Homo sapiens: one gene and its partners. The protein of the gene in region 1 purifies or fractionates together with the protein of each later gene. This does not show direct contact. Each region holds a gene or a part of one and is shown in the gene's direction. Other genes may lie near its edges. The genes, in order: TUBA3E, KATNAL1, KATNA1 and KATNAL2.

Evidence for each region.
Region 2: the proteins of TUBA3E (region 1) and KATNAL1 purify together in Homo sapiens (tandem affinity purification; one large-scale study listed by IntAct). This does not show direct contact.
Region 3: the proteins of TUBA3E (region 1) and KATNA1 purify together in Homo sapiens (tandem affinity purification; one large-scale study listed by IntAct). This does not show direct contact.
Region 4: the proteins of TUBA3E (region 1) and KATNAL2 purify together in Homo sapiens (tandem affinity purification; one large-scale study listed by IntAct). This does not show direct contact.

What each region holds. Positions count from the first base shown.
Region 1 is NC_000002.12:130,192,781-130,201,228, reverse strand, and holds the start of TUBA3E (tubulin alpha-3E chain), read left to right. Parts: upstream 1-2,789; 5' UTR 2,790-2,868; coding exon 2,869-2,871; intron 2,872-4,857; coding exon 4,858-5,080; intron 5,081-6,001; coding exon 6,002-6,150; intron 6,151-6,762; coding exon 6,763-7,443; intron 7,444-8,448. UniProt on the Homo sapiens protein: Tubulin is the major constituent of microtubules, a cylinder consisting of laterally associated linear protofilaments composed of alpha- and beta-tubulin heterodimers.
Region 2 is NC_000013.11:30,209,330-30,217,203, reverse strand, and holds part of KATNAL1 (katanin p60 ATPase-containing subunit A-like 1), read left to right. Parts: intron 1-6,761; coding exon 6,762-6,888; intron 6,889-7,874. UniProt on the Homo sapiens protein: Regulates microtubule dynamics in Sertoli cells, a process that is essential for spermiogenesis and male fertility. Severs microtubules in an ATP-dependent manner, promoting rapid reorganization of cellular microtubule arrays.
Region 3 is NC_000006.12:149,632,898-149,640,771, reverse strand, and holds part of KATNA1 (katanin p60 ATPase-containing subunit A1), read left to right. Parts: intron 1-2,211; 5' UTR 2,212-2,224; coding exon 2,225-2,386; intron 2,387-7,855; coding exon 7,856-7,874. UniProt on the Homo sapiens protein: Catalytic subunit of a complex which severs microtubules in an ATP-dependent manner. Microtubule severing may promote rapid reorganization of cellular microtubule arrays and the release of microtubules from the centrosome following nucleation.
Region 4 is NC_000018.10:47,063,721-47,071,594, forward strand, and holds part of KATNAL2 (katanin p60 ATPase-containing subunit A-like 2), read left to right. Parts: intron 1-3,300; coding exon 3,301-3,399; intron 3,400-5,499; coding exon 5,500-5,563; intron 5,564-5,761; coding exon 5,762-5,880; intron 5,881-7,874.

The sequences.
Region 1 (8,448 bases):
CCCAGCTGTCGGCAGAACTCCGTCCCTGCCCCTCCTCCTTTTGCCAAAGCATCTTTCTAAGGGAAGACCTGATTGCACTGTTCAGAGGTCCCCAAAGGCCACAGAAAAGTCTCAACTCCTGGACCTCGTGAGTCCCATCCCACTGGGGGAGCTCCCTCTCTCTTCTCTGCTCTCCTCTCAGGAGGGAAAGTTAAGGGCCTGCTTGGCCACCCTCCAGGGAGATGACATGGTGGGATGCTGCATCCTGGTGATGAGCTGGGGGTAAGCCAGCACGTCTCCTCCAGGGCTTTCCCCAGAACTGAATACACACTAAGATGATCTTTAGGGATGGAAGACTCAAACTGGGAAGAATCACACACCTGTAGTCCCAGCCTACAAGGAAGGCTGAGGCTTGGGGATCACTTGAGGCCAGGAATTTGAGTCCAGCCTGGTCAACATAGTGAGAACCAGTGTCAAAAAATAAATAAATAAAAAGGAAGAATCAGGTGACTGTTCCAAAGTCCTCCAAAATGGGTATTGGGTCCTGACTCTGCTCTTCCCGGGACAGGGGTGTGCCTTCCCCTTTCCTGTTGGCCATAAACCCACTCCCTCTCACCAAAGAAATAAGAAAAAGTGTTCACAGCACTTTGAGTTATGTGAGGTGTGCAGAATTTATCAGGCCCAGAGAGACAGGAATATGGACTTCAGTCACACGCCTTGTACTCATGCCCTGGGGTGACTGTTTAAAGGCATTTTGTTCCTGACTAGCTCAACCCATTATCTTCCTGTTCCTGGAATTTGTGATACCAAAGACAATGTAGACAATGTAGAGACAATAAATAGCTTTTTTTTTTTTTTTGAGACAGAGTCTCGCTGTGTTGCCCAGGCTGGAGTGCAGTGGTGTTATCTCGGCTCACTGCAAGCTCCACCTCCCGGGTTCATGCCATCCTCCTGCCTCAGCATCCAGAGTAGCTGGGACTACAGGCACCTGCAGCCATGCCCGGCTAATTTTTTGTATTTTTAGTAGAGACGGGGTTTCACCGTGTTAGCCAGGATGGTCTCGATCTCCTGACCTCGCGATCCGCCTGACTTGGCCTCCCAAAGTGCTGCGATTACAGGCGTGAGCCACCACGCCCTGCCTTCTTTTTTTTTTTGAGATGGAGTTTTACTCTGTTGCCCAGGCTGGAGTGCAATGGCATGATCTTGGCTCACTGCAAACTCTGCCTCCTGGGTTCAAGTGATTATCCTACCTCAGCCTCCCAAGTAGCTGGGACTATAGGTGCTCACCACCATACCTGGCTAATTTTTGTATTTTTAGTAGAAACAGGGTTTCATCATGTTGGCCAGGCTGGTCTCGAACTCCTGACCTCAAGTGATCCTCCTACCTTGGCCTCCCAAAGTGTTGGGATTACAGGTGTGAGCCACCACGCCTGGCCCAATAAATAGCTTACGTTATTTTAATATAAATTCCTCAGGCTAGGCCAGCCGAGGTAGGAGGATCCCTTCAGGTCAGGAGTTCAAGACTAGCCTGGACAACACAGCAAGACTTCTCTAATTTCAAATTCTTGGTAAACAACTTAGGAACTGCCTCTTCTTTTCCTTTAAAAACCCACTTATAACTGCTGCTAATATTTTAAGACAACTTGCATCTCCAGGGTTGCACTTCTCAAACTTGGCCCAAATAAACTATTTTTTTTTTCAAGATGGAGTTTTGCTCTGTCACCCAGGCTTGAGTGCAGTGGCGTGATCTCAGCTCACTGTAACCTCTGCCTCCCGGGTTCAAGGGATTCTCCTGCCTCAGCCTCCTGAGTAGCTGGGATTACAGGCGCATGCCACCATGCCTTGCTAATTTTATTTTTTGTAGAAACGGGCAAGGTGGGACTCACCACGTTGCCCAGGCTGGTCTCGAACTCCTGACCTGAAGCAATCCTCCTGCCGTGGCCTCCCAAAGCACTGGAATTACAGGCATGAGCTGGTGTGCCTGGCCCAACCTCTCCACTTACGTTAATTTTGCCTCCTTTCTTCCTTTTTTTTTTGAGACAGAGTCTGGCTCTGTTGCCCAGGCTGGAGTGTGCTGTGGCCCAATCTCGGCTCACTGCAACAACTGCCTCCCAGTTTCAAGCGATTCTCCTACCTCAGCCTCCCGTGTAGCTGGGATTACAGGTGCCTACCACCAGCCAGGGTAATTTTTGTGTTTTTAGTAGAGATGGGTTTTCACCATATTGGCCAGGCTGGTCTCGGGAACTCTTGACCTCAAGTGATCCACCCGCCTCGGCCTCCCGAAGTGCTGGGATTGCAGGCGTTAGCCATCGCGCCCGGCCCGTTTTCTCCCTTTGGGTCAGAAAAGTGATTGAATCCTGCCACTTCCCGGGTGCTGGGTGGGAACAGGGAAGAGGGGGATAATTGCGGTGCTGCTGTGACTTGGGTAGATGGCGGCAAGGCCTCTCAGAGGTGGCCTTGTTTGCAAAGATCTGAATTAGGCAGGGAGAGGAGCAGGCCTGGGGCAATCAGGGAGGGGCAGTGGCACACTGGGAGCAAGGCAATGTTCCGCGACCCACAGAGGCAGCGCAGTAGCTGTTCCAATCCTGGTCGGAAGACACCCCGGAAATGCCTCAGCAACCGCGCAGCCTTTGATGACCCCGCTGCCTTCCCGCCAATCCTGCATCCAATCAGAGAGCATCCCCACTACACGTGTTGAGCAACGGCCAATCAGAACTGGGATCCGGCCCTCGGCCTGCCTCCCAGGAACTCCGAGCCAATGGCGGCCTGGCACCGGCAGGCCAATCCTGTGCGGCGCGCGTGGGCAGGTCATTGCAGTTGGGCGCTCAGCAGCTGTGGCAGCCGGTTGAGGTCTGGAAGTAGCGTTGGGCTGAAGCAGCGGAGTTCGCCATGGTAAGACCCGGGTCACTCCCGCCCCGCAGATGCCCAGGCAGACGAAGTTGGCCTCGGGTGGACAGAGGGACGTTGTTGCGGGCCTGGGCGCTGAGAGGAGGCCAGAGAAGGACGCAGGGTCTAGTGCGGGACAGGAGGACACGGGATCGTTTCCTGGATCTGCAGGTCCCAGGGCAGGGACGGCGGCTTTTGTTTTAGATGAAGCTGCCGGCCTTTAGTGGACGGGGACCATTGACGGTATCCCGTCCCCCAGAGAGCAAATAGTGGCGTCGCCTCCTGAAGACAGGAGGGCGCTGCTCCCGCTTCACACGTCTTTGTGCTACTGGAAACAGCTGAGGAGCTGCAGGAGCCTTCGGTGACGGGGGTTGGGGCTGTGGACATTGGTCAGATGAGGAATTAAGGCTCAGACGCTGCTGCAACATTGCCTTGTTCACCTAAAGGCAACCGTTAGGCCAGGCGCGGCGGCTCACGCCTGGAATCCCAGCCCTTGGGGAGGTGGAGGCGGGCGGATCCCCTGATGTCTGGAGTTCAAGATCAGCCCGACCAACATGGCGAAACCCAGTCTCTACAAAAAAATACTAAAATTACCCGGGCATGGTGATGCGAGTCTGTGGTTCCAGCTACTCGGGAGGCTGAGGTGGGAGGATCAGCCGAGCCTGGAACTTTGAGGCTGCAGTGAGTCGTGATGGCGCCAGTGCACTCCAGCCTGGGCCACAGAGACCCTGCCTCAAAAAACCAAACAAAAAAAGCAGCCCATTAACATAACAGATTCCCAAGTCCCAAGTCTGAATAGCTGTGATTTGTCAGTTATCCTTTTTTTCCTTTCTTTTTCTTTTTTCTTTTCTTTTCTTTTTTTTTTTTTTTTGAGACAGCACTCAATAAATGCTCTGTTGCCCAGGCTGGAACACAGTTGCAAGATCACGGCTCCCTGCAGCCTTGAACCCCTGGCTTCCAGCAGTCCTCCCGCCTCAGCCTTCCGAGTAGCTGGTACTACAGGTGTGTGCCACCACACCTGGCTAATTTGTAAATTTTTCATAGGGACAGGGACTCACTATGTTACCCAGGCTGGTCTCAAACTGGTCCCAAGTGATCCTCTCACCTCAGCCTTCCAAAGTGCTGGGATTACAGGAATGAGCCACCACACCCAGCTTGGCAGAGTTTAAAGAAACCACCAAAGGACAGTGCAGTGTCCCAGCACTGATGATGTCTGGGAGCCATTACACCCGTAGGCTTCAAGGGGTAGAGAGAGGGCGTGGTTACAAGAAATTAGGAGGGTAGTTTTATGAAGAGGGCAGCCTGCCAAAAGTGTAGCCTTGAGAGGGATTCAGGTCACCCACAGCAGTTGAGCAGGAAGGGGCCAAGGAGGGAGTACCCTGGCACTGCTTTCCTCCAGCCCCCCAGTATCCCACTGCTGCCTGCCATTGACCAAACCAGCAAGAAGCCAGAGGGCGAGGAAGGCCTCTGATGCTGTTCTCAAGGGTCAGCCTTCGAGAGCACAGAGCAGGTGGTGAATGATGGACGGGGTAGAACTGGGGGGCAGAGAGAGGACACACACTGAGCACCTGGGCTTGGACCATGGTGACCTGGGACCTACTCTGTATTTCCTTACCCAACCCGACTACCTTATCCTTTGATCAGGACATAATCAAAAACTGCTACTTATTCTTCAGAGAATTACTGTGACGGGCTATAATGTGGGGTTGATTATTGACATTAAATGGCTTCCAAGTTTTAAAATAACCTAAGTTTTGTGTAGTGGCAAACAGGTTCTAGGGCTACTTCTAGAACTTACTAGCTAGTATGGTTTACAGCAATTAGTTTTCACAGCGATAAAGGGATCAGTCACTAACCCTCCTAGGAAATATCGATTGTGAAAGCGCCAGATACTGAAGCACTATATAAATATTAAATTAGAATATTTTGCATGCCATATAGTTTCAAGTTGCCTTGAAATGAATGGGTTCACATTTATGTTCCGGTTCACAGCGCGAGTGTATCTCTATCCACGTGGGGCAGGCGGGTGTCCAGATCGGCAATGCCTGCTGGGAACTGTACTGCCTTGAACATGGAATTCAGCCCGATGGTCAAATGCCAAGTGATAAAACCATTGGTGGCGGGGACGACTCCTTCAACACGTTCTTCAGTGAGACTGGAGCTGGCAAGCACGTGCCCAGAGCAGTGTTTGTGGACCTGGAGCCCACTGTGGTCGGTAGGTGCCTGGGCACTGGATGGCAGCTTTCCTGAGAGGGTGGGAGAGCATTGGTAAAGCCCCGTGTGGGCTCCTTTGAATCCTCCTGCTGAAAGGATGGGATAGACAGGCATATGCCCATGGCATTGTTAGGAGAGAAACTGAAAGGTTTGTGATGAAAGTGTCTGTGAGACTCGGCTCCTAATTTAGGAAAACCTGACCTACAGGGAAAAGCTGCTTTGCCAGCAGTAAGATGGGCTGTGAAGAGATTCCCTCATGGCTGCCTCAGCCCTGCTCAGGTGGCCCTGCCTGCAGGGTGCAGTGGCATTGGTTCCCTCCCGAATGCTGTGCATTCTCTTATGCTGGTGCACGAGAGTCTTGACCTGCATCTTAGGCATAGAAGGTAAGTACAGAACAGTCATTTGCTTCCTTCAGATTCGCAGCCTGAGGTAGTTTCCAAGGAGAGCTACAAAGAGGCAGCACCTTTCAGTGGCCCCCCAGGAGATGACAGCATCACCTGAAAGCCTGTGGGACCCAGGTCATCCAGGGTGCCCTGATGGGACTGCCCTGCAGAAGTCACACTGACCTGGTGACTGCCCAGGTTGTAAGAGTTTTTAACTTACAGCCTTTGATGTAGCTACACGTAGGAAAGAATTATGTACCTGAGTAGGAGTGCAAGAGCTTATTTCCTTTCACTGGGAACTGGTCGTGCTGACATTTATACCACAAGCTGAGTTTAACGTCGTAGAGTCATAAATTGCATATGCAGTTTGGTTATCACACAGAGACATTTTCTACCAGACACTGCCACTGTTGACCTATGACATGTAGGTCATGTACTTTGAACAGCATGTGCTCTGTAGAAGTGAACACTCCTGGAATGTGTCCATCTTGGTGAGTACAGGCCTTAAAAATTCACAGTACACACTGTCTCTTTTGCAGATGAAGTGCGCACAGGGACCTACAGGCAGCTCTTCCACCCAGAGCAGCTGATCACCGGGAAGGAAGATGCAGCCAGTAATTACGCCAGGGGCCATTACACCATCGGCAAGGAGATTGTTGACCTAGTCCTGGACCGGATCCGCAAACTGGTAAGAAGAGAAGGTTTCATGTGGCCATTGTCTTGCATGGGAGGGGTAGTTCTTGGAATGTGAAAGGGAAGTCATTTTATCAACACTTAGACCAGCATCTTGGCCGGGCGCGGTGGCTCACACGTGTAATCCCAGCACTTTGAGAGGCTAAAGCAGGTGGATTACCTGAGGTCAGGAGTTTGAGACCAGCCTGGCCTACATGGTGAAACTCTATGTCTACTAAAAATACGAAAATTAGCTGGGTGTGGTGGCACACACCTGTACTGCCAGCTACTTGAGAGGCTGAGGCAGAAGAATTGCTTGAACTCGGAAGGTGGAGGTTGCAGTGAGCTGAGATTGCACCACTGCACTCTAACCTGGGCAACAGAGCAAGATTCCGTCTCAAACAAACAAGCAAAAACTTAGACCAGCATCTTGAGTCCTACTGAGTCTGCAATGGTGATTTGTCCGTAGATCTTTGCTTTTCTTTGCTTCAAAGTGTATTGCATGTTTATTATGGATGATTTGAATCCATATCAACTCTTTAGAGGCAAAGAGAAGCGGCCCTGGCTTGTTGGAGGTTGGTGGTGTGGCTTCCACGGGCATTGGCTCACGTTGTCTGGTTTCTCTCAGGCGGATCTGTGCACAGGACTGCAGGGCTTCCTCATCTTCCACAGCTTTGGGGGCGGCACTGGCTCTGGGTTCGCATCTCTGCTCATGGAGCGGCTCTCAGTGGATTACAGCAAGAAGTCCAAGCTAGAGTTTGCCATTTACCCAGCCCCCCAGGTCTCCACAGCCGTGGTGGAGCCCTACAACTCCATCCTAACCACCCACACGACCCTGGAACATTCTGACTGTGCCTTCATGGTCGACAATGAAGCCATCTATGACATATGTCGGCGCAACCTGGACATTGAACGTCCCACGTACACCAACCTCAATCGCCTGATTGGGCAGATCGTGTCCTCCATCACGGCCTCCCTGCGATTTGATGGGGCCCTGAATGTGGACTTGACGGAATTCCAGACCAACCTCGTGCCGTACCCCCGCATCCACTTCCCCCTGGCCACCTACGCCCCAGTCATCTCAGCTGAGAAGGCCTACCACGAGCAGCTGTCTGTGGCCGAGATCACCAATGCCTGCTTCGAGCCAGCCAATCAGATGGTCAAGTGTGACCCTCGCCATGGCAAGTACATGGCCTGCTGCATGTTGTACAGGGGGGACGTGGTCCCCAAAGACGTCAATGCGGCCATCGCCACCATCAAGACCAAGCGCACTATCCAGTTTGTGGATTGGTGCCCGACTGGATTTAAGGTATGACTGGGTGACATGGAGGCCTTTCAGCAAGCAGCAGATGCACAAAATAACACTGGCCTTGAAGGCCCACATCCTTTGGGGAGACTATCCCTGTTCCATGGGCTAGGCATGTGGGCATAAGTTAGTGAACCAGAGTTGATAATTGATTCAGTGATTTTTTTTTTTTTTTTTTTTTTGAGACAGTCTTGCTCTGTCGACCAGGCTGGAGTGCAGTGGTGCGATCTCAGCTAACTGCAACCTCTGCCTCCCGGGTTCAAGCAATTCTCTGGCCTCACCCTCCCAAGTAGCTGGGATTACAGGTACCTGCCACCATGCCCGGCTAATTTTTGTATTTTTAGTAGAGACGGGGTTTCGCCATGTTGGACAGGTTGGTCTTGAACTCCTGACCTCAGGTGATCTGCCTGCCTCAGCCTCCCAAAGTGCTGGGATTACAGTCGTGAGCCACTGCGCCCAGGTCAGTGATGTCTTTTGAACTCTTTCTGAGTCATCACACTATATATCTGTGGTGAGCTTTATTTATTTATTTATTTTTTGAGACAGGGTCTCGCTTTGTCTCTCAGGCTGTAGTAGTGTGATCCTGGCTCACTGCAACCTCTGCCTCCCAGACTCTAGCGATTCTCTCACCTCAGCCTCCCAAGTAGCTGGGAACACAGACATGTACCACCATGCCCGGGTAATTTTTTTTTTTTTTTGAGACAATCTTGCTCTGTCGTCCAGGTTGGAATGCAGTGGCACGATCTTGACTCACTGCAACCTCCACCTCCCGGGTTCAAGCACTTCTCTGCCTCAGCCTCCCAAGTAGCTGGGATTACAGGCACCTGCCACCACGCCTGGCTAATTTTTGTATTTTTAGTAGAGATGGGATTTTGCCATGTTGGCCAGGCTGGTCTCAAACCCCTGGCCTCACGTGATCTGCCCGCCTGTCTCCCAAAGTGCTGGGGTCACAGGCTTGAGCCACCACACCTGGCCTGATGTTGTCATTTATAGAACGAGTTTGCTGAT
Region 2 (7,874 bases), on another chromosome or scaffold:
TGGGATTACAGGCGTGAGCCGCCGCGCCTGGCCATCAACTCAGTTTTATGGAGCTGGTAAATCTTAAGAATATTCTAAAAAATTACTGACATAACCAGTTTTAAGTTACTTGTTCCCCACCCCCCCGCCACCAATCATAGTTACTAGGGAAACAGAATATGCTTTCTGCTAAGCTTCAGTACCACTAGGTCCTCACTTACGAACAGGTTTATGTATGTTCATTTTAAGTTGGCTGTCTGGAACTTTGTTTCAGTGGGAGAATATATTAAACTTTGTGTTAAGGAACTTAGGCCAGGCACAGTGAAACGTTTGATTTACACATACAGTGGTATTCTAATATTGGGTCTGTAAGAATGAAAAGGGGTATTTGTTCATTGTCATTCACTGGCTCTATGTGGAACATTGTGTAATGATGCTCTTATGTTAACATCAGTTCTTACCTGGACATCAGGCGCACATCAGCCTTCTGTATCGGTAGGCACAGGAGCTTCCTCCCCTCACCCCTTTCTCTCCCTACCCCTCCTGCCACCAGCCTGACTGGAGGACTTCTTTGGCTCTAAACCACATGTCGAGCAGGTGTACTCCCTGCGAGCCTGTTGGCTGGGATCAAGGATGGGGGCTCCTGGGATTAGGGAACTGTGGAGGTAGACGTTTTCCAGTCCTGCCCTTTCTGTTTTCTGGTAATCCCAAATCACACCTGCTTGCTGCTTTTGGCACTGCTCTGCTTGGTCTCACTGTGTGTTTGTGGTGTGTGAAACATAACTCAATACAGAAACAGTTCCTAAAATGTTTAGTTTATCCAGTAGCTGGTGAAGCAGACAGCCCTGTTACCCGCTCCAGGAGAAGTGGAGCCTCCCTGGAACTCAGCAGCTCCCAGCGTGTTCCCTCCCAGCATGGTTCCTTCCTGCCCTCTGCTGGGGGTCACCACCTTTCCCTTACAGTGATTTCCTTTTATGGAGATAATGTATTGCTTTTCCATATAATTTCATCACCTAACAATGTATCCCCAAGCAAAGTTTTACCTCCTTTTAAACTTTACATAAATGAAATCATACTGATTGTGTTCATTTGTATCTTGCCTCTTTTGCTCAATGTATTTTAAGATTTATCCATGTTACCACATATATATACCACATATAAGGCTGCCACCTCACATTCATTTTTGTTACTGTGTGGTATTCTGTCATATTCGTTTGCTAGGGCTACCATAACAAATATCAAAGATTGGGTGGCTTAAACAACAGAAGTTAATTTTCTTTTTTTTAAAATTTTATTATTATTATACTTTAAGTTTTAGGGTACATGTGCACAATGGGCAGGTTAGTTACATATGTATACATGTGCCATGCTGGTGTGCTGCACCCATTAACTCGTCATTTAGCATTAGGTGTATCTTCTAATGCTATCCCTCCCCACTCCCCCCACCCCACAACAGTCCCCAGAGTGTGATGTTCCCCTTCCTGTGTCCATGTGTTCTCATTGTTCAATTCCCACCTATGAGTGAGAACATGCGGTGTTTGGTTTTTTGTTCTTGTGATAGTTTACTGAGAATGATGATTTCTAGTTTCATCCATGTCCCTACAAAGGACATGAACTCATCATTTTTTATGGCTGCATAGTATTCCATGGTGTATATGTGCCACATTTTCTTTATCCACATTATCATTGTTGGACATTTGGGTTGGTTCCAAGTCTTTGCTATTGTGAATAATGCCACAATAAACATACGTGTGCATGTGTCTTTATAGCAGCATGATTTATAGTCCTTTGGGTATATACCCACTAATGGGATGGCTGGGTCAAATGGTATTTGTAGTTGTATATCCCTGAGGAATCACCACACTGACTTCCACAATGGTTGAACTAGTTTACGGTCCCATCAACAGTGTAAAAGTGTTCCTATTTCTCCACATCCTCTCCAGCACCTGTTGTTTCCTGACTTTTTAATGATTGCCATTCTAACTGGTGTGAGATGGTATCTCATTGTGGTTTTGATTTGCATTTCTCTGATGGCCAGTGATGATGAGCATTTTTTTCATGTGTTTTTTGGCTGCATAAATGTCTTCTTTTGAGAAGTGTCTGTTCATGTCCTTCGCCCACTTTTTGATGGGGTTGTTTGTTTTTTTCTTGTAAATTTGTTTGAGTTCATTGTAGATTCTGGATATTAGCCCTTTGTCAGATGAGTAGGTTGTGAAAATTTTCTCCCATTTTGTAGGTTGCCTCTTTTCTCTGATGGTAGTTTCTTTTGCTGTGCAGAAGCTCTTTAGTTTAATTAGATCCCATTTGTCAATTTTGTCTTTTGTTGCCATTGCTTTTGGTGTTTTAGACGTGAAGTCCTTGCCCATGCCTATGTCCTGAATGGTAATGCCTAGGTTTTCTTCTAGGGTTTTTATGGTTTTAGGTCTAACGTTTAAGTCTTTAATCCATCTTGAATTAATTTTTGTATAAGGTGTAAGGAAGGGATCCAGTTTCAGCTTTCTACATATGGCTAGCAAGTTTTCCCAGCACCATTTATTAAATAGGGAATCCTTTCCCCATTGCTTGTTTTTCTGAGGTTTGTCAAAGATCAGATAGTTGTAGATATGCGGCATTATTTCTGAGGACTCTGTTCTGTTCCATTGATCTATATCTCTGTTCTGGTACCAGTACCATGCTGTTTTGGTTACTGTAGCCTTGTAGTATAGTTTGAAGTCAGGTAGCTTGATGCCTCCAGCTTTGTTCTTTTGGCTTAGGATTGACTTGGCGACGTGGGCTCTTTTTTGGTTCCATATGAACTTTAAAGTAGTTTTTTCCAATTCTGTGAAGAAAGTCATTGGTAGCTTGATGGGGATGGCATTAAATCTATAAATTACCTTGGGCAGTATGGCCATTTTCACGATATTGATTCTTCCTACCCATGAGCATGGAATGTTCTTCCATTTCTTTGTATCCTCTTTTATTTCATTGAGGAGTGGTTTGTAGTTCTTCTTGAAGAGGTCCTTCATGTCCCTTGTAAGTTGGATTCCTAGGTATTTTATTCTCTTTGAAGCAATTGTGAATGGGAGTTCACTCATGATTTGGCTCTGTTTGTCTGTTATTGGTGTATAAGAATGCTTGTGATTTTTGTACATTGATTTTGTATCCTGAGACTTTGCTGAAGTTGCTTATCAGCTTAAGGAGATTTTGGGCTGAGACGATGGGGTTTTCTAGATATACAGTCATGTCATCTGCAAACAGGGACAATTTGACTTCCTCTTTTCCTAATTGAATACCCTTTATTTCCTTCTCCTGCCTAATTGCCCTGGCCAGAACTTCCAACACTATGTTGAATAGGAGTGGTGAGAGAGGGCATCCCTGTCTTGTGCCCGTTTTCAAAGGGAATGCTTCCAGTTTTTGCCCATTCAATATGATATTGGCTGTGAGTTTGTCATAGGTAGCTCTTATTATTTTGAGATACGTCCCATCAATACCTAATTTATTGAGAGTTTTTAGCATGAAGGGTTGTTGAATTTTGTCAAAGGCCTTTTCTGCATCTATTGAGATAATCATGTGGTTTTTGTCTATGGTTCTGTTTATATGCTGGATTACATTTATTGATTTGTGTATGTTGAACCAGCCTTGCATCCCAGGGTTGAAGCCCATTTGATCATGGTGGATAAGCTTTTAGATGTGCTGCTGGATTCGGTTTGCCAGTATTTTATTGAGGATTTTTGCATCAATGTTCATCAAGGATATTGGTCTAAAATTCTCTTTTTTGGGTGTGTCTCTGCCCGGCTTTGGTATCAGGATGATGCTGGCCTCATAAAATGAGTTAGGGAGGATTCCCTCTTTTTCTATTGATTGGAATAGTTTCAGAAGGAATGGTACCAGTTCCTCCTTGTACCTCTGGTGGAATTCGGCTATGAATCCATCTGGTCCTGGACTCTTTTTGGTTGGTAAGCTATTGATTATTGCCACAATTTCAGCTCCTGTTATTGGTCTATTCAGAGATTCAACTTCTTCCTGGTTTAGTCTTGGGAGGGTGTATGTGTCGAGGAATTTATCCATTTCTTCTAGATTTTCTAGTTTATTTGCGTAGAGGTGTTTGTAGTATTCTCTGATGGTAGTTTGTATTTTCTCATAGTACCGGAAGCTAGAAGTACAAGACCAAGGTGTAGGCAGGGTGGTTGCACTCTGGGGCCTCTCTCCTTGGCCTATAGGTGGCCATCTTGTCCCGGCGTCTTCATGTGGTCTTCCCCTTAGGGGTTTTTGTGTCCTAACCGCTTCTTCTTATAAGGACACCAGTCATGTTGGATTAGAGCCCACCCATATGACCTCATTTTACCTTAATTACCTCTCCTGTCTCTAAATACAGTCACATTCTGAAGTACTGGGGGTTAGGAGTTGCCTAAAAATTTTGAGGGACATGGTTTAACCCATACCATCTATTATGTGATTATATCAAAATGTATCCATCATATTGTTTGGTGGACATTTTAATTATTTCTTGTTTTAGGCTATTATGAACAGTGCTACTGTGAACATTTTCATACATGTATAGTGGTAAGAATGCCAGAATGGAGCATTCCATCCTAGGAGTGAATTGCTAGGTAGTGCCGCACAGCTGCAGTATTAATAGATGAATTCAATATGTTTTCCAAAGTGCTTGTGTTGCAGGATCCTTGGTGGCACCTTTGCTGGAGTTTTGCTTGAGCCCAGCGTTCTGACCACTGGGCCTGGCAGGCTGAGCTCGGCTGGAGCTACTGGCCCTGATCCCACGCCGGCCAAGGGCAAGCCAGGCACAGAGTGGTGAGGGGTGCATGAGCAAGCAAGCACCAGGGTCCGGCCACTGTGCATTGCCAGGCACGCTGGCTATTGGGTAGTCTGACTTTTTCTTGCTGATTTTTAGAAATTCCTTAAATATTCTTGATACAAGTCTTTGGTTGCTTATATATGTTACAAATATCTTCTCAAACTCTGTAACTTATCTGTTTTCACTGTGTCGACAGTATCTTTTGATGAATAGAAGTTCCTCATTTTAATGTGGTCAGTTTATCAATCTTTTCCTTGTTGATTTTTTTTGAATATATGTCTTGAGAATACTTCCCTGAGGTCATTGAGATATTCTTCTCTGTTATAAAATACTTACAACTTTGCATTTAGATGTAATATATCTGGCACTGATTTTTGTGCACAGTATGATGTAGGACCTGATTTCATTTTTTTCCCTGTGGATAGTCAGCTGTTCTTACATCATTAATTGAAAAGACACTCCTTCCCCTCACGGCCTGAACCACCTCTGTCATAAATTCAGTGTCTGTAATTATGCTTCGGTCTGCTGCTGGGCACCCCGTTCTGTACTATTGATCTATTTGTCTATTTCCACAAGAGGGTCACACTGCTTTGAGTCCTATACCTTTGTAGTAAGTCTTAAAATCTGATAGAGCATTTCTTTCCACTTTGCTGTTGCTCTTCCAGAGCATCTTGGCTGTTCTTGGTTCTTTCCATTTCTGTGAACATTTTGGTATCTGCCCGTTAGTTTTTACAGATAGACCTTTTAGGAGGATCTTTATTGGAATGCTTTGGCTGTATAAGATCAATTGGGGGAGAATTGTCAATTTCATGAAAGACAAAACAAAATGAACCAAAAAGTAAACACTGGGGAACTGTTTTAGATGAAAGAAGGTGAATGAGACATAGTAACTGACTGCAATGTGTTATGGTTTGTAAAAGTTATAAAGGCTTGGGACAAATAGGGAAACTTTGCTTTGAATTGTGTATTAGACACTAATATTCCAGTATTAAATCTCCTGATAAGGGTGAGAAATGCTATGTCTACCTTTTTTCTTAGGAGATACATGCTGGGGAATTTAAGGTGAAGTGTTGTGATGCCTGCAGCTAGCGCTCAATTCAAAAAGTTGAGGGAGGAGAGATGACGAGCCAGCTAGAGTGATAATGGCAAAATGTTAGCAATTGGTGAATCTCAGTGAAAGGGAAATGGGTATTCATTGATTTTCTTTTCCTGTATATATGGCATTTTTCAAAATAAAAGTAGAAGAAAATTAAATTTCATTTTGTATCTCAGGAAATAGTAGAGCGCCAGATAAACTAGTAATGCATTATCTTAGTGTGCTGTGCTAAGCAGATTTGCCACTAAAAGCACTAGTGAAATGGCAAGCATGATTGGTTATTTTAAAAATTCTCTAGTATGTTTGAACTTATTCAGTTCACATTTAAATCATACTGGAACAGCAAATGTCTGTGGGCTGGCTCTCCAAGTAAAAAATACATTAATGAGCTTTTTGTGCCAATTACTGATTTTCAGGAAATGTTCTTTAAACTACTGATAAGAGTTCTGGAGATCCATGTCATACTAACAGGTGAGCAAAGTAATTCATAGGAGTTACACTTGATGCAGTGTAATTTTGTAACACCAGGCTAAGTATTTTTTTTTTGAGAAGCATTTCCGGTGCTTGAAAACTGATATTTATATTTTTCATGAAGAATCTCAGATTCTTTGTTCTCATAGTAGGTATCTTCACAGTCTTTAAAGAAAACCTAGGTGGTTTTTGGTGTTTTTTTTTTTTTTTTTTTTCAATTTTTAGTTACTGCAACAGAGGCACATAGGAATTTAAATGATTCCATGAGTCATGCAGTGAATTGGTAATAATACTAATGGACACACAGTTATTGACTCTTCTTTGCATTGGCCTCATTTTTCCCCCAAATGTTAATATGTCATTTCTCAGCAAAATTATTTGTAAAGTAAAACATCTAACAACACCACCAAAATCTTGTAACAGCAAAAGGAAGAGCTGAGCTTCTGAAGATCAACCTTCGTGAGGTCGAATTAGATCCTGATATTCAACTGGAAGATATAGCCGAGAAGATTGAGGGCTATTCTGGTGCTGACATCACTAATGTTTGCAGGTATTTTTTTAATGATCTGTGATTTTAGACATTAGTTATAGACTTCGCAGGAGGACTGGTCTTAAAGTCAATGTAGTTAGCCCAGTGTAGTTAGACATGAAAGCAGCTACCCATTTCTTTAAAATGGTTTCCCATTTGTCCCTTTTTTTTTACATATAACTTTATTTTTCATTGTGAGATGAAAATTATATAGCAGTGGTCGTTGATGTTTTTGATCTTTGGATTTTTAAGAAATTGTTGTGTCGGTGGCTTACGCCTCTAATCCCAGCACTTTGGGAGGCCGAGGCGGGTGGATCACGAGGTCAGGAGATCGAGACCATCCTGGCTAACACGGTGAAACCCCGCCTCTACTAAAAAATACAAAAAATTAGCCAGGTGTGGTGGCGGACACCTGTAGTTCCAGCTACTCGGGAGGCTGAGGCAGGAGAATGGCATGAACCCGGGAGGTGGAGCTTGCAGTGAGCCGAGATCGCGCCACTGCACTCCAACCTGGGCAACAGAGCGAGACTCTGTCTCAAAAAAGAAAAAAAAAGAAATTATTGTGTCTAACTCGATAATAATGACTTTGACAACCTAAGATTAGTTTAGCTTTGTGTTGGAGCCTTTCTGCATCAACCTAAAGTAATATTATTTAGTTTTTGTTGGCATTATTTAAACACATGCAAATGAGCAAAAATGATCAGCGTAAGCTGGGGAAGATACACGTTTAAAATTTTTTCAGTTTAGCGACATCATAAGTTTTAGACAGTTCCTGTCACTGCAGTTATTTTTTTTCTTATTTTTCTAACTGCACTTAAATTGACTTTAGTAGCCTTTCTTTAAAGCCACAGCATCTGTTTTTCTCACCTTTTCTGCTCGCATTTTTCCCATGTGCATCCAAGTTTAGTGGCATACAATAAGGTTGCAATAGTTCCTACTGCTACTATAGCAAAATATTTAAGAACTTGACATTTTTGTTGGCTTGGCCTTCCTAATAGCTTTTTTGT
Region 3 (7,874 bases), on another chromosome or scaffold:
ATCGAGACCAACCTGGCCAACATGGTGAAACCCTATCTCTACTAAAATACAAAAATTTAGCCGGGCGTGGTGGATGCATGGCTGTAGTCCCAGCCACTCTGGAGGCTGAGGCAGGGGAATCGCTTGAACCTGGGAGGCAGAGGTTGCAGTGAGCCGAGATTGCGCCACTGCACTCCAGCCTGGCAACACAGTAAGACTCCATCTCAAAAAAACAAAAACAAAACCCAAAAAAACCCAAAAAAACCCCCACCATACTTACAGAAATCATCTGGGCCTGGAGCTTTTTTGTCTTTTTTTAATGTTTTCTTGAGACACAGTCTCACTCTGTCTCTGTTGCCCAGGCTGGAGTACAGTGGCACTATCTCGGCTTACTGCAGCTTTGACCTCCCCAGGCTCAGGTAATCCTCCCACCTCAGCCTCCTGAGTAGCTGGGACTACAGGCACACACCACCATGCTCTGCTAATTTTTGTATTTTTTGTAGAGATGGGGTTTTGCCGTGTTGCCCAGGCTGGTCTTGAACTCCTAGGTTCAAAGGTTGGATTAGGTTCTCATATATAGAAAGTTTCATGGCAGACACATTTAACATTTATTGAAGACCTACTATTTGTCAAGTAGTATGCTTAGTACTTTAAATAGCCATTTATTGTTTATAGCGTAACTCCTGAAAGTAGTTGCTATGGCAGTTCCACAGATATTAAAACAGGCTTAGAAAAAAGTTAAGGGACTTGATTAAGGTGGCACAATTATAATTCTAGCCAAGATTTTTCTAACTTCAAAATACATACGCCTTCTGCTAATCCACACTGCTTCAAAAAATGTATCTAATATTCACTATTTATTCTGCAGATGTTTAATAAAATGTGTGTCATGCAAGGATCATATAGTCTCACACCTTTCAGATGCAAATCCTACTGTCAGATAACAGTCTACTAGAGATAAGACATATATAGAAACTGTAATTTGAAGTAGACAAGTGTCTTGGGATGAAAGTCACAGTAAAGTGCAAGGGGACTTTAGAGGAGGGAGAGTTTATTTTGAACTGAGGAGTTCAGGGGGTAGACATACTAGGAAAACTGCCATCTGAGCTGGGCTTTGACAATAGGGAGGGTTTGAATGTGGGAACTTTTTTAAAACAATGTTTTAAATTTATTTTATTTTATTTTTTTATTTTTTGAGACAGAGTCTCATGCTGTTGCCAGGCTGGAGTGCTGTGGTGCGATCTCGGCTCACTGCAGCCTCCGACTCCCTGGTTCAAGTGATTCTCCTGCCTCAGCCTCCTGAGTAGCTGTGATTACAGGCACGTGCCACCATGCCCAGCTAATTTTTGTATTTTTAGTAGAGACCGAGTTTCACCATGTTGGCCAGGATGGTCTTGATCTCCTGACCTCGTGATCCACCCACCTCAGCCTCCCAAAGTGTTGGGATTACAGGTGTGAGCCACCGCACCGGGCCTGTTTTTTGTTTTGTTTTGTTAAACAGAGTCTTGCTCCATCTCCCAGGCTGGAGTACAGTGGCACGATCTTGGCCTACTGCAACCTCTGCTACCCTGGTTCAAGCAATTCTTGTGTCTCAGCCTCCCAAGTAGCTGGGACTATAGGCATGTGCCACCACGCCCAGCTAGTTTTTACATTTTAGTAGAGACAGGGTTTCGCCATATTGGCCAGGCTGGTCTTGAACTCCTGGCCTGAAGTGAGCTGCCTGCCTTAGCCTCCTAAATAAAATATTTCTTTGAGGCCAGGCGCGGTGGCTCATGCCTGTAATCCCAGCACTTTGGGAGGCCGAGGCGGGCAGATCACCTGAGGTCAGGAGTTCGAGACCAGCCTGGCCAACATGGTGAAACCCCATCTCTACAAAAATACAAAAAAAATTAGCCGGGCATGGCGGTGGGTGCCTGTAATCCCAACTACTTGGGAGGCTGAGGTGGGAGAATTGCTTGAACCCGGGAGGCAGAGGTTGCAGTGAGCCGAGATCATGCCATTGCGCTCCAGCCGGGGCCACAGAGCGAGACTCCGTCTCAAAAAAAAAAAAAAAAAAAAAAAACAATGTTTTTTTTAAAGGAGTGAAATAGCATGAGCACACATATAGAGATGGGAAGTGTGGTATGTGTGATTGTTTCTTGAGGGAGCCCTGGAAAGTATTTTTTAATAACTATACTTATTTTTAAGAGACATGTAAACCTAAAGTGTTTCTTTTTTTCTTCTTCTTTTTAGCTTACAGTTGAACATGAGTCTTCTTATGATTAGTGAGAATGTAAAATTGGCTCGTGAATATGCATTGCTGGGAAACTATGACTCTGCGATGGTCTATTATCAGGGAGTTCTTGACCAAATGAACAAGTATCTGTACTCAGTCAAAGATACATACCTCCAGCAGAAATGGCAACAGGTGAGAGTAATGGCTGCTGTATGTTTTAATGGCTTAAGTACTCGGAAGAGAAAATTTAGATCAGATGTCAATGCTGTATGTAGTTACATGTTAAGACTGTATGACTACCGAGCACAGTACACAGTGGCTCACTCCTGTAGTCCTAGCACTTTGGAAAGCCAAAGCAGAAGGATCACTTGAGGCCAGGAGTTCAAGTCCAGCCTAGACAACATAGCAAGACTTCATTCTACAAAAATAAAAAAATTAGCCAGATGTGGTGGTGTGTGCCTGTAGTCCTAGCTACTAGGGAGGTTGAGGTGGGAGGATCACTTGAGCCTGGGAGATTGAGGCTGCAGTGAGCTATGCTTGTACCACTACACTCCAGCCTGGGCAACAGAGCTAGACCTTGTCTCAAAAATAAAAAACAAAACAAAACATGAGTATGTGAGTTATTACACAGATTTCTATATAATATTACTTGACACTTTATTATATGAATAATAATCCACTTTCACCATCAGCAGTATTATGAGTTCTACTTAATTCTAATTGCTGGAATCTAATAAGAGGGGTTTTTTTTGTTTTGTTTTTTCCTCGAGACAGAGTTTTGCTCTTGTCATCCAGGGTGGAGTGCAGTGGCACGATCTCGGCTCACTGCAACCTTCACCTCCCAGGTTCAAGCCTCCCGAGTAGCTGGGATTACAGGCGCCTGCCTCCACACCCAGCTAATTTTTGTATTTTTGGTAGAGACGGGCTTTCACCATGTTGGCCAGGCTGGTGTTGAACTCCTGACCTCAGGTGATCTGCCCACCTTGACCTCCCAAAGTGCTGGGATTACAGGCATGAGCCACCACGCCTAGCCAAGAGTTTTTTAAAACAATGGTTTTGACATTTTTTGATCAGATTTTTACTTCGTAAAAATAGAGTAGACTTTATTAAGCCATTGTCGAAACTGTAAATGGCTTGTGAATCTCACAGGTACCATATTTTTTAAAAAACTTTTTGAGAGAGGGTCTTGCTCTCTTGCCCAGGAGGGAGTGCAGTCTCTACAGCCTTGACCTCCCAGGCTCAGGCTCAAACAATCCTCCCACCTCAGCCTCCTGAGTGGGTGGAACCACAGGTGTTCCCCACTGTGACCTGCTAATTTTTCAATTTTTGGTAGAGATGGGATCTCCCTATGTTTGCCAGGCTGGTCTCAAACTCTTAGGCTAAAGTGATCCTTCCACCTCAGCCTCCCTAAGTGCTGGGATTACAGGTGTGAGCCACCATGCCTGGCCTCATATTCCTTGTATAATAGAACTTTATGAAGCAGATTATGTTGAATCCCATTGAGAAACTTCAGTTACTGAGGACTAACAAAAATTTAAAATTGGAAATTGTAGAACTTACAGGTCCAGTGGAGGGTGGTATTTCTAACAAGGCTCAACTATGTCAAAGAGGAAAAAAAGGTTAAGAAAATAAGTCTTGCGGGGCATGGTGGCTCACGCCTGTAATCCCAGCACTTTGGGAGGCTGAGGTGGGCAGATCACCTGAGGTCAGGAGTTCGAGACCAGCCTGACCAACATGGTGAAACCCCATCTCTACTAAAATACAAAAAAATTAGCTGGGTATAGTGGCGGGCATCTGTAATGTCAGCTACTTGGGAGGCTGAGGTGGGAGAATCACTTGATATCAGAAGGCAGAGGTTGCAGTGAGCCGAGATCGCACCATTGCACTCCAGCCTGGCAACAGAGCAAGACTCTGTCTCAAAAAAAAAAAATGAAAGTAATAGTCTTTTTGAGGTGGTCTTCTAGATAGAATATTATACCTCAGATTCTGCTGAGCTGCTTTTTAAATATTGTTCAATATTTGTCCTTAATTTTTTTGAGAGAAACAGCCTATCTCTTTGAACTTCATCTATTTTCCTATATCTGTCCCTCCATATCCTTTACCATATCCATGTAATTACCAGAAAGGGCAACTATTTTATTTTATTTATCTTTTATTTATTTATTTTTTACAGACATGGCATCTCACTATGTTGTTCAGGCTGGTCTTGAACTCCTGGGATCAAATGATCCTCTTGGCTCCGCCTCCCAAATTCCTAGGATTATAGGCATGAGTCACCATGCTCGGCCTAGTAAATATTTTATTTCATAAGGAGTCTTAAGTTTGTCAGTGAAGGACTTTTTAGATCTTTTGTTGTTAGGCCAAAGACTTTTACTTAAGTCTAAGCTTTTGTTTAAAGGTACTTAAGATTAAATCATTTAAGTTATAAAGCAAAACATTATCATCTTAAATTTCATTTCAATATTATATATATAGTTTATTTTTATTTTTATTTTTTACCATTTTCTGGTTTGTTTTCTTTTGAGATGGATTTTCTCACTTGTTGCCCAGGCTGGAGTGCAATGGCGCGGTCTCAGCTCACTGCAACCTCCACCTCCCGGGTTCAAGTGATTCTTCTGCCTCAGACTCCCGAGTAGCTGGGATTACAGGAGCCCACCACCACACCCAGCTAATTTTTGTATTTTTAGTAGAGACGGGGTTTCACCATGTAGCCAGCTGGTCTCAAACTCCTGACCTCAGGTGATCTGCTTGCCTCGGCCTCCCAAAGTGCTGGGATTGCAGGCATGAGCCACCATGCCTGGCCTACCATTTTCTTATTGTGGTAAAATATACATAACACTTTACTGTTTTTTGTTTGTTTGTTTGTTTTGAGACGGAGTCTCACTCTGTTGCCCAGGCTGTAGTGCAGTGGCGCAGTCTCGGCTCATTGCAACCTCTGCCTCCTGGGGTCAAGTGATTCTCCTGCCTCAGCCTCCCGAGTAGCTGGAATTACAGGTGTGTGCCACCACACCCAGATAATTTTTTTGTACTTTTAGTAGAGACGGGGTTTTTGCCATGTTGGCCAGGCTGGTCTGGAACTCCTGACCTCAGGTGATCTGCCCTCCTCAGCCTCCCAAAGTACTGAGATTACAGACGTGAGCCACTGCACTTGGCCTTGGCCATTTTTAAGTATACAGTTCAGTGGCATTAAATACATATATAATGTACAACCATCACCATATATAGTTTTTAGGCTGAGTTAAGACCCATTACTATAATACAGTTGAATCAAAACTATATATAGGTTTTTGAGGGTTTTTTGGAGGCAGAGTCTCGGTCTGTTCCCCAGGCTGGAGTATGGTGGTGCAATCATGGCTCACTGCAGCCTTAACTCCTCAGGCTCAAGCAATCCTCCCACCCAGCCTCCAGAGTAGCTGGGGCCACAGGCACAAACCAACATGCCTGGCTTATATTTTTTTTAGAGATGGGTTATTGTTATGTTGCCCAAGATTAGTTTTTAAATTGCGTCAAGATTCCTTTTCTCTTTTATTTTTGAGGTGGAGCCTTACTCTCAAAACTAGGGCCATTTTACTGCATTCCAGACTGGATGACAGAATGAGACCCTGTCTCTAAAAAATATTTGAAAAAAAAAAAAAAGACTGCTTTTAAAAAAATACCTTGGTTGCATATGAATTGAGACCTATTTTAGTCTGTAGGTTGTGACCCATTAGCCATAAAATTAGTATATTCTGATCAGTGTTGTATTGATTTTTAGAAATTATTTACTGATATATAATAGTTGTACATATCTTGGGCATACACATTATATTTTGATTCCTGTATACAATATCTAATGATCAAATCAGGGTAATTGGGATTAATCAGCATTTTAAAAGTTAATTAAACAGAATAAAAATTATCAAAGTAGGGCTGGGCATGGTGGCTCACACCTGTAATCCCAGCACTTTGAGAAGCTGAGGTGAGAGGATGGCTTGAACCCAGGAGTTTGAGGTTATGGTGAGCTATGATCGTGCCACTGTAGTACAGCCTGGGCAACAGAATGAAACCTTGTCTCTAAAACATAAAAATAAAAGTTTGACAAAAATGAAACTTTCACAAGTTGTGCTTTGATGGTTTTTTTTCCCCCTTGGGCTCAAGCAATTCTCTCACCTCAGCCTCTAAAGTAGGCAGGACTACAGGCATGGGCCACCATGCCCAGCTAATTATTCTTGTAGAACTTTAAAGTTATGCCTAACTTTTCAATTTGTTATGCAATTTATTTTATTTTATTTTATTTTATTTTATTTTATTTTATTTTATTTTTTTGAGATGGAGTCTTGCTCTGTTGCCCAGGCAGGAGTGCAATGGTGCGATCTCGGCTCACTGCAACTTCCGCCTCCTGGGTTCAAGCGATTGTTGTGGCTCGGCCTCCCAAGTAGCTGAGATTCCAGGTGCCCGCCACCACACCCAGCTAATTTTTGTATTTTTAATAGAGATGGGGTTTCAACATGTTGGCCAGGCTGGTCTTGAATGCCTGACCTCAGGTGATCTGCCCTCCTTGGCCTCCCAAAGTGTTGAGATTACAGGTGTGAGCCACCGCGCCTGGCCTGTTATGCAATTTATTTATTTATTTATTTATTTGAGCCGGAGTTTCACTCTTGTTGCCCAGGCTGGAGTGCAATGGTGTGATCTCCGGCTTGCCGCAACCTCCGCCTCCCAGGTTCAAGCGATTCTCCTGCCTCAGCCTCCCGAGTAGCTGGGATTACGTGCATGTGCCACCACACCCGGCTATGCAATTTAAATAAGAATATAAATTAGTAGTATGATTTAGTTAGCCTGGATTTTTTTTTTATTTTTTATTTTTTTGAGACAGATTCTTGCTATGTTGCCCAGGCTGGAGTGCAGTGGCGTGATCTTGGCTTTCTGCAACCTCCATCTCCTGGGCTCAAGAGATTCCCCTGCCTCAGCCTCCCAGGTAGCTGGGCCTGTAGGTGCCTGCCCCCATGCCTGGCTAACTTTTTGTATTTTTAGTAGAGATGGGGTTTTTACCATGTTGGCCAGGCTTGTCTCAAACTCCTGAGCTCAAGTGATCCATCTACCTCAGCCTCCCTAAAGTGCTGGGATTACAGGCGTGGATGTTTCCTATCCTGGATGTTTTAATTCATTTTATCAGAATTAATTTTGCAATTGAGGGCCGAGCGCAGTGGCTCACGCCTGTAATCCCAGCATTTTGGGAGGCCTAGGCGGGTGGATCACGAGGTCAGGAGATCAAGACCATCCTGGCTAACATGGTGAAACCCTGTCTCTACTAAAAATACACAAAATTAGCCAGGCGTGGTGGCGGGCGCCTGTAGTCCCAGCTACTCGGGAGGCTGAGGCAGGAGAATGGCCTGAACCCAGGAAGCAGAGCTTGCAATGAGCCGAGAGTGATCACGCCACTGCACTCCAGCCTGGGCGACAGAGTGAGACTCCATCTCCAAAAAAAAAAAAAAAAAAAATTGCAATTGAAAACATAAATTTAATAAACTGTTATTAACATTTTGATAGAATATCTTGATGTGGTTTACTGGATATCTGATATCAAAATGGAGTTTTGTAACATCTCTAGTAAATGGCCCTCATTTAATTTTGACAGTGATATATTATAGAAATTTAAACATCCATCTTCTTCTTTGAAATCAGGTTTGGCAGGAAATAAATG
Region 4 (7,874 bases), on another chromosome or scaffold:
CCTAGAAATAGAGACGTCGGGAGTCTGATGATATCATCATTGAAAATCTCCATGAAAAACACAATTAGCAGGAAAGACTACCATCCAGACTACGGACTTTTCCAGCTTGCACTGTGGAACCAGAAGGCAGTGAAGAACAGGCTTTGGAATTAGCTGACCTGCCTTTGATTTCTAGATCCTTCTCTTGCTAGCTGTGTGACTTTGGGCAAGTTCCTGGGAAATAAAATAGATTCCTGAGTTATAGGGTATTTTTCTAATTTCTATTGCTTCATATTTAATTGAAGACTGAAACCTAGGCAGGCTCAGAGGGGGGTTTAAAATGATCCCCAAAATTCACAGCTCCTCTGAGAAGCTAAGGGCTCCTGAGCTGTCTCTGTTCAGCTCAGCAGTTGTTTCCTGTATGCCTCTTGTGTGTCAGGTGTGTGCTGTGGGCTGGAGACACAAATGTGAACGAGTCAGAGCATAGTCCTTGCCCTCAAGAGTTTCTCATCCCAGGGACAAAGTGCACTTTAAGAGCATGAAGGAGGGAGGGGTGGGGAAAGTGTTAGGAAAGAAGACAGGAAATCGCTAAGGGAAAAAGTGGAAGAGGGAGGCTAGGAGCTGTTCTGGGCATAGGCACTTCCATGAGAAATTGCAGTTTGTGCACATGTCCTGTGGGCCACCTAAGAAGCAGGGAGTGGTGGGGAACGGGTGGAGAGAGGCAGGGTTCCTGAGGAAGGGTGCTGTGAGCAGTACCCAGGGCTGAGAACACACCTATAGAAGAGGGGACCTTAGAAAGGCGCCCGTCGGAGGATGGGATCATCCCATGTGCTTGTGGATGGCTTGTTCTATGACAGTGAGATGAATGAATAGCAAAGAAAAGGAGATGGGGAGACCATCTATAAGGTTTTTACCAGTGAGAGGGGATGAGGGACTGAGCCAGGCTGCAGTAACCCCAAATTAATAGTCTCATTACCATTTTTGCAAAAGGGTAACATGACTATGAGGATAGAACTATAGAGTGGAAATGGCCTGAGATGATTCCATCTGGAATCCTTTCTATAGTAGCATAGGAGGTAGAAACCCTGCTCCTGCTTGAATGCTTACAGTGACGGAGAGCTCACCACCTCATGAGGTAGTCCTGTTGAGTTCTGACTGTTAACTTTGGATTGATACAAGGAGAAACTGTCAGTTGGGAAATTAAACATTACCTTGTGGAACTCAACTCTAGAAGAGGTCAAGAAATACTGCTGTTATCTATGGATGCTTTTAATACCTAGGTAAATGAATCTTCCTTGTGTGCCGAGATTTCACTAAGAAAGGACGGTAATAAGAATGTGAGTGGCTGGTGGGCCTGCATGTAGATCCAGGCTCTATAGACAGAATAAGGAAGACTGAGTCCTTTCTCTACCCTTCAATCCAAGAATGGATTGTAAATATCATGCATGACCAAAGTACTTTTATAAATACTTTCTCTAGACCAGATGCAGTGGCTCACACCTACAATCCTAGCACTTTGGGAGACTGAGATGGGTAGATCACTTGAGGCCAGGGGTTTGAGACCAGCCTGGCCAACATGGCAAAAACCTATCTCTACTGAAAATACAAAACATTAGCCAGGAGTTGGAGACCAGCCTGGGCAACATAATGAGACCCCATTTCTAGAGAGCATTAGCTGGTATATGTGGGTTTCCCAAGATCGACTGTGGGACTTGAGTATGCACAGATTTTGGTATGGGGGAGAGTGTCGGGGGGGGAACAGGGAGAGGTTCTGGAACCAATCTCTTCCATATGCCCAGAGACCATTTCTAGAGACCCCATTAGCTAGGCATGGTGGCATGTGCTGGTAGTCCTAGCTACCTGGGAGGCTGAGGCATGAGAATCACTTGAACCTGGGAGGCGGAGGTTGCTGCACTGTAGCCTGGGTGACAGAGTGAGACTCCATCTCAGAAAAAACAAACAAACAAACAAACAAGAACTTTCTCTAATAAAAGTGAAAGTTGGCTGGGTGCAGTGGCTCACACCTGTAATCTCAGCACTTTGGGAGGCCGAGGCAGAAGGATCACTTGTGTCCAGGAGTTTGAGACTGGGCAACATAGTGAGACTCCGTGTCTACAAAAAATGAAAAAAAATAGCTGGGCATGGTGTGTGCCTCCTTGGGAGGCTGAGGTGGGAGGATTGCTTGAGCCCGGGAGGTTGAGGCTGCAGTGAGTGGTGATCATGCCACTGCCCTCCAGCCTGGGCTACAGAGCGAGACCCAGTTTGAAGAAAAATTAAAAATAAATAAAAATTTAAAAAATTTAAAAAAAATTTTAAAAAAATAAAAATGAACCTCCTATGGTGGAGGGAACTGGATGGGTGGGGAGCAGGAGTAGCACAAACATCTCACCAGCATTTAAAAAATGTATTTATATTTTTGGTCCATGTGCATATATTACTTATTAAAAATTATATAAATATAATAATTAGTTTCAGATTTTTTCTGTAGTCACTCAGAATGACTTTGGAAAGAAGGCTTTTCAGGCTTTTTTGAGGAAACACTCTAGATATTCAGTTTGCCTGAAACAACTCCTACTGAGAAAGGCCCCTTAGTGACTGCTCTGAGGCGTCTGGTGAAATTGAAGTTTGGAAACTGTAAATTAGTTATCAGTAAAAGCTACCTTAATTGATTATCCTAGATGGTTGCTACAGGGCTCTTCTATAAGAGGAGAAAAACTGCACTTTCGCTCGGTTGTCAGCTTCCTTGAATTCTGTAGAAGCAATTGCTCCTGCTGGAAGTAGGGAATGATCGCTAGCGAAAAAAGAGAAATTGGTTTCAGAGGAGCATTATCTCCTTTATGCAACAAATTAAGAAAGTGTTTGTGAGATCAAGGAGCAAGAGCAAGGCCAGGCACTGGCTAGGAACTATGTTTCACAGTAAAACCTAATGTAAGTTGAAGGCATATTCTGTAGCTTCTTTAATTATGGTTATAAATCAGCATGGTTTGCTATTGACTGAAAACAGGTAGAGTCTGTTGTTAGGAGATTTTTTTTTCTCTCTGAAAAATACCACAATGTGTTATCAATGTCTTCTTCAGGGAAAATCATTGAATATTTTCATGGCATACCTTTGGTGAACTAACCCAAAATTACAATGTATATATGTGTTTATATATATATATATATATATATATATATATATATATATATATATAATATGAACAGTTTTTATCACCAGCACTTTATATCCTATTGTAAGTCAAGTATTCTGCTGCTCCCAAGTTTATTACAGCTGTAGAGGAAAACATCAGTTTTAAAAAAATGATCAAATGTGCATTGCAGGACATTTATCTCCATAATCCAAACATAAAGTGGAATGACATTATTGGACTTGATGCAGCCAAGCAGTTAGTCAAAGAAGCTGTTGTGTATCCTATAAGGGTAAGGACGGGAAGCCTCTTGGGGGTTATTTCTGTTCACTATCCATTGGACAAGCTGTATGTCACACAACTATCAGGAAGGGAAGGGCAGGATGATTTTCTGTCCACACGTTAACTCTTTGCTTGTGTCACAGCACTTTCTCAACCCTGGAGCACCAAAGCCTGGTCCATTCTAGATCATTTAAAATCATATTACATATTAGTTCAAGACAGGTGTCTGAGCTAAGTGAAACTTTAAAATCTAAGACCATAGTATACATGATTTGTCAGATTGATTCAAATTAGCCTGCTCCCTTAAAAATATTCTTATTGTTGTAGAAATACCTCTGGTAGGGGAGAATCTCTCACTTTGTTTCCACAGATCCTTCCTTTACACCCCTGCCCCCCTGACCTACCCTCCCCAGGATCGTCTGGGGCTTTGCTTCTGGCTGGTTGTGAAGACTAGACAGCCCCTTCCAGGGCAGTGACCAGCAAAGCCAGCCTGTTGTGCTCATTACTTATTACTGACAAATCTCTGTGCAGTTTACAAACTGGGTAGAAAAATAGAAAAACAATACTCTCCATGTTTGATTTACAAATGGGTTAATGAGGAGATAAGTGATAACTTAGCTTTTGTTGTATAACAGACCACCCCACAACTTAGTGCCTTAAGACAACAATTTATTTGTTTGTAATTCCGTGGGTAGGCAGTTGGAGCTGGGCTCAGCTGGGCTGGCTCATCTCTTTTCCACGTGGTATTCTTGGCTGAGCTCAATCACAGGTCTGAGCCATCAGCCAGAGTAGCTGGAAAAGATGGAGAGACTGAAAAGGCTGGGACAAGCAGTACGGCCAAGGTGTCTCTCCATGTGGCCTCCATCCTCTAGCAGGAAAGTCCAGTCCTGCTCACATGGTGGCAGTGGGTTCCCAGAAAGAGGCAAGAAAGGGAAAGTTCTAATTCACAAGCATCTTTCATGCCTCTTATATTTTTTTGCTAGTCTTATATTTTCAAGTCTTTTACATTTGCTAATGTCCCACTGGCCAAAGTCACAGGGCCAGGCCCAGATTCAAATGTTGGAGAAATAGGCTCCATTTCTTGATGAAAGGAGCTACAAATAATTTGTGACCATTTTCTGTAATCTCCTGCTGTTAGGATTATGAATTTATTTTATTGAATAACCTATTTAGTCTTAAACCACTGAGCCCATGTGGCCCCTGATTTTTGGATGCTTTCCTCTAAGGAGACAAAAATCAATACATTTGGATTCTCTTTTCCCCCTCTTTCTTTCTGTGTTCACACTTAAGGGTAAGAAATACACTAGTGTTCAGAATTAATAGAAATTTACTCACCTTTTCCTCTAAATGGAACTATAAAACTTTTAAAAAGGATAGAACATCTCACTGAAATTCCCTGGATTTGTTGTCCCCATGGCATTACAAGCTCCATATGTGTGGAGATTTGACATCAGGATTAGCATGAAACTAATAGCTAGTTGTAATTTTACTAATATTCCTTGCCACACCCTCTCCCCCATTCTCTACCAACCCTTGCCACCCACATTCCCGAGATTGTTTGAATTTGAACTAATAGGAGAGACTTCCTGAAGGCTACGCATGTCCTGTTCAGCGTTGGTGTCTCTTAATGCGTTTGCCCCTGAATATTCCCAACTTCCAAAACAAGTTTCACCGTAGCTCTGTACTTTATTCGAATAAACCTTTACTAATTGGTTCTAGTATGTATTTTAAAGTTCATACCTGCTTTACAACATTCAAAAGATTGCCAAATGCTCTCCGTATAGAAGTCTGGGGAAAACGATGTTATGCATGTAAGAAATAACTGTTTAACGGAGAGGAAGAAATACCTACATATACCTTTCCTTCCAAAAAAATTGGTCCTTTAAAAAGCTGCAAAAATTGTCAGGCATTCTAATCAAGCGTGAAAATAAAATTGGGATGAATAAGATCTGTTTATTTCGGTCAGAAGCAGACAACCTTAAGCAAAAAAGGGAGCCCTGAATCTTAGAGCTGTGCTGCTTTGACTTCAGCTTTCCCAGCTTGTCTGTGCTGAGAGTATGCAGGCTGATGTGTTGGTACCAAACCTCATCCTTGTTCCTTGTTTCCTTAGTATCCACAGCTATTTACAGGAATTCTTTCTCCCTGGAAAGGACTACTGCTGTACGGCCCTCCAGGTAAACACAGCTTCCTATTTTGATGTCAGTGTTAAGTGTGTGTGCAGAGGATGAGTTGCCCCTTCTGTCCTCACTTCAGGACTGGGGCACACGAGAGCTGAGCAGTCACTTCCTTCCTTGTGTGTGAGACTGACTTCTGTCTATAAGCAGGGGGATGGAGTTGAAATGCCTGCTCATCTTTTATGTGTTTCTCTTTAGGTACAGGAAAGACTTTACTGGCCAAAGCTGTGGCCACTGAATGTAAAACAACCTTCTTTAACATTTCTGCATCCACCATTGTCAGCAAATGGAGAGGGGATTCAGAAAAACTCGTTCGGGTAGGAATTCTTAATTTTGTTTTTAAAAATAAGTTCTAGTGTAATACAGTGGTACAAAATGATGTCAGAGCTTCTTTGCTTTTAGGTGATTTTATGTGAGATCTCAAGATCCACTCCTGGATCTTGATTACCAGCAGCTTGGGAAATGGATTGTCTATTACGTGTGGATGTTAATTGTGCCCCCATCAGCAAAACATGATCTCCCTTCCTTTGGGAATTTGATCAACAGCTCTTTTTTTATTCATGCAATTTAGGCATGAAAGCTGGGGGAAAAAAATCTCTGACGTGGCATATTTTTTCTTCATTCAAGAAGTATTTATTATTTAACATGTACACTATATTTGGTTAACATTTATTGAGAGGCTACTACTGTATGTTAGTCCCTATGCTAGATACTCTAAGAAAGAATCAAGAAACTTTAAACTTCATTATTCTTTCAGATGTTCTGAGCACCTTTGCTTCCATAGTGCCCATAGCCTGTAAGATTTTTTGCTTTCTTTTTTTTTTTTTTTTTAGACGAAGTCTCGCTCTTGTCCCCAAGGCTGGAGTGCAATGGTGCGATCTTGGCTCACTGCAACCTCTGCCTCCCGGGTTCAAGCAATTCTCCTGCCTCAGCCTCCCGAATAGCTGGGATTACAGGTGCCTGCCACCACGCCCAGCTAATTTTTTTTGTATTTTTAGTAAAAAAAAGGGTTTCATCATGTTGGCCAGGATGGTCTCGAACTCCTGATCTCAGGTGATCTGCCTGCCTCAGCCTTCCAACGTGCTAGGATTACAGGCCACCACGCCAAGCGATTTTTTGCTTTCTTTCAGAGGTTGTTTCCATCTTTACAATATCACATTTATAGTTGATGTTATATTTTATATTATAAAATGGTACTGAATCTTCCAATGACATTAAGAGCACTTCCATTTATGGTTTAGGTCCCAGTGTAAGACAGGTCCTTCTTTGAAATCCTGTTAAACTATCACGCTCTGTAGAATGGCAGATATGTAATCAATATAAGTGAATATAAAATATTACGTATTTTCTGAAAAGTGATTAACAAATTATGCTTAAATTACATTCCCTTAGATGACTGTTTCAAAATATGATGGCCTATTTGGAAGTCATAATAGAATATGTTTAAAGGATTGATTTTCCTAAAATAACCTATTATCTATTACCTTGATATCATTTTCAAGTTGTTGTAAATATGTAAGCTTATGTAAATTCTTGTTACCCATTCAAGATGGTAATTTGTGGAAATCTACATTGATATCTTCTATTTCTTTGTTCTTCATCTTGCATCTAACTCAGTGCCAGTTCCGAAGATGGGGCTTGAATTTAGCTGCACCTACAGTTATGGTTCCATGTGATTTTAGTTAGCTGGAGGTTCAGTTACGGTTGGCCCTTGAACAACAGTTGGCCCTTCAACTGCACGGGTCTACTTATATGGGGAATTTTTTTCAACAAAATACAGTATTCACAGGATGCAAAACCCGAGTATATGTGGGTTTCCCAGGATCGACTGTGGGACTCCCCAGTAGCTGAGACTATAGATGCACACCACCAAGCCCAGCTAATTTTTGTATTTTTTGTAGAAACCAGGTTTCACCATGTTGCCCCGGCTCCTCTTGAACTCTTGGGCTCAAGCAATCCTCCCGCCTCGGGCTCCCAAAATGCTGGGATTACAGGCATGAGCCACCATGCCTAGCTTCTCCCTGCCTTTCTAAATACAAGTAGAAACATACTATGTTCCCTTTTGTACCTGGCTTTTCCCCCAACTTAATATGCACAGATTTTGGTACGGGGAAGAGTGTCAGGGGGAACAGGGAGAGGTTCTGGAACCAATCTCTTCCATATGCCTAGAGACGACTGTAGCTGAAATTCATCTCACTAGAATTCTTATCACCCTGAAGTCTTTTTTTTTTAAATATCATTTCTATATGCTGAATAGCAACAAAACTCTTAAAAGATACCACCCAGAATTAGTTTAGGTTCATCTCCTGTC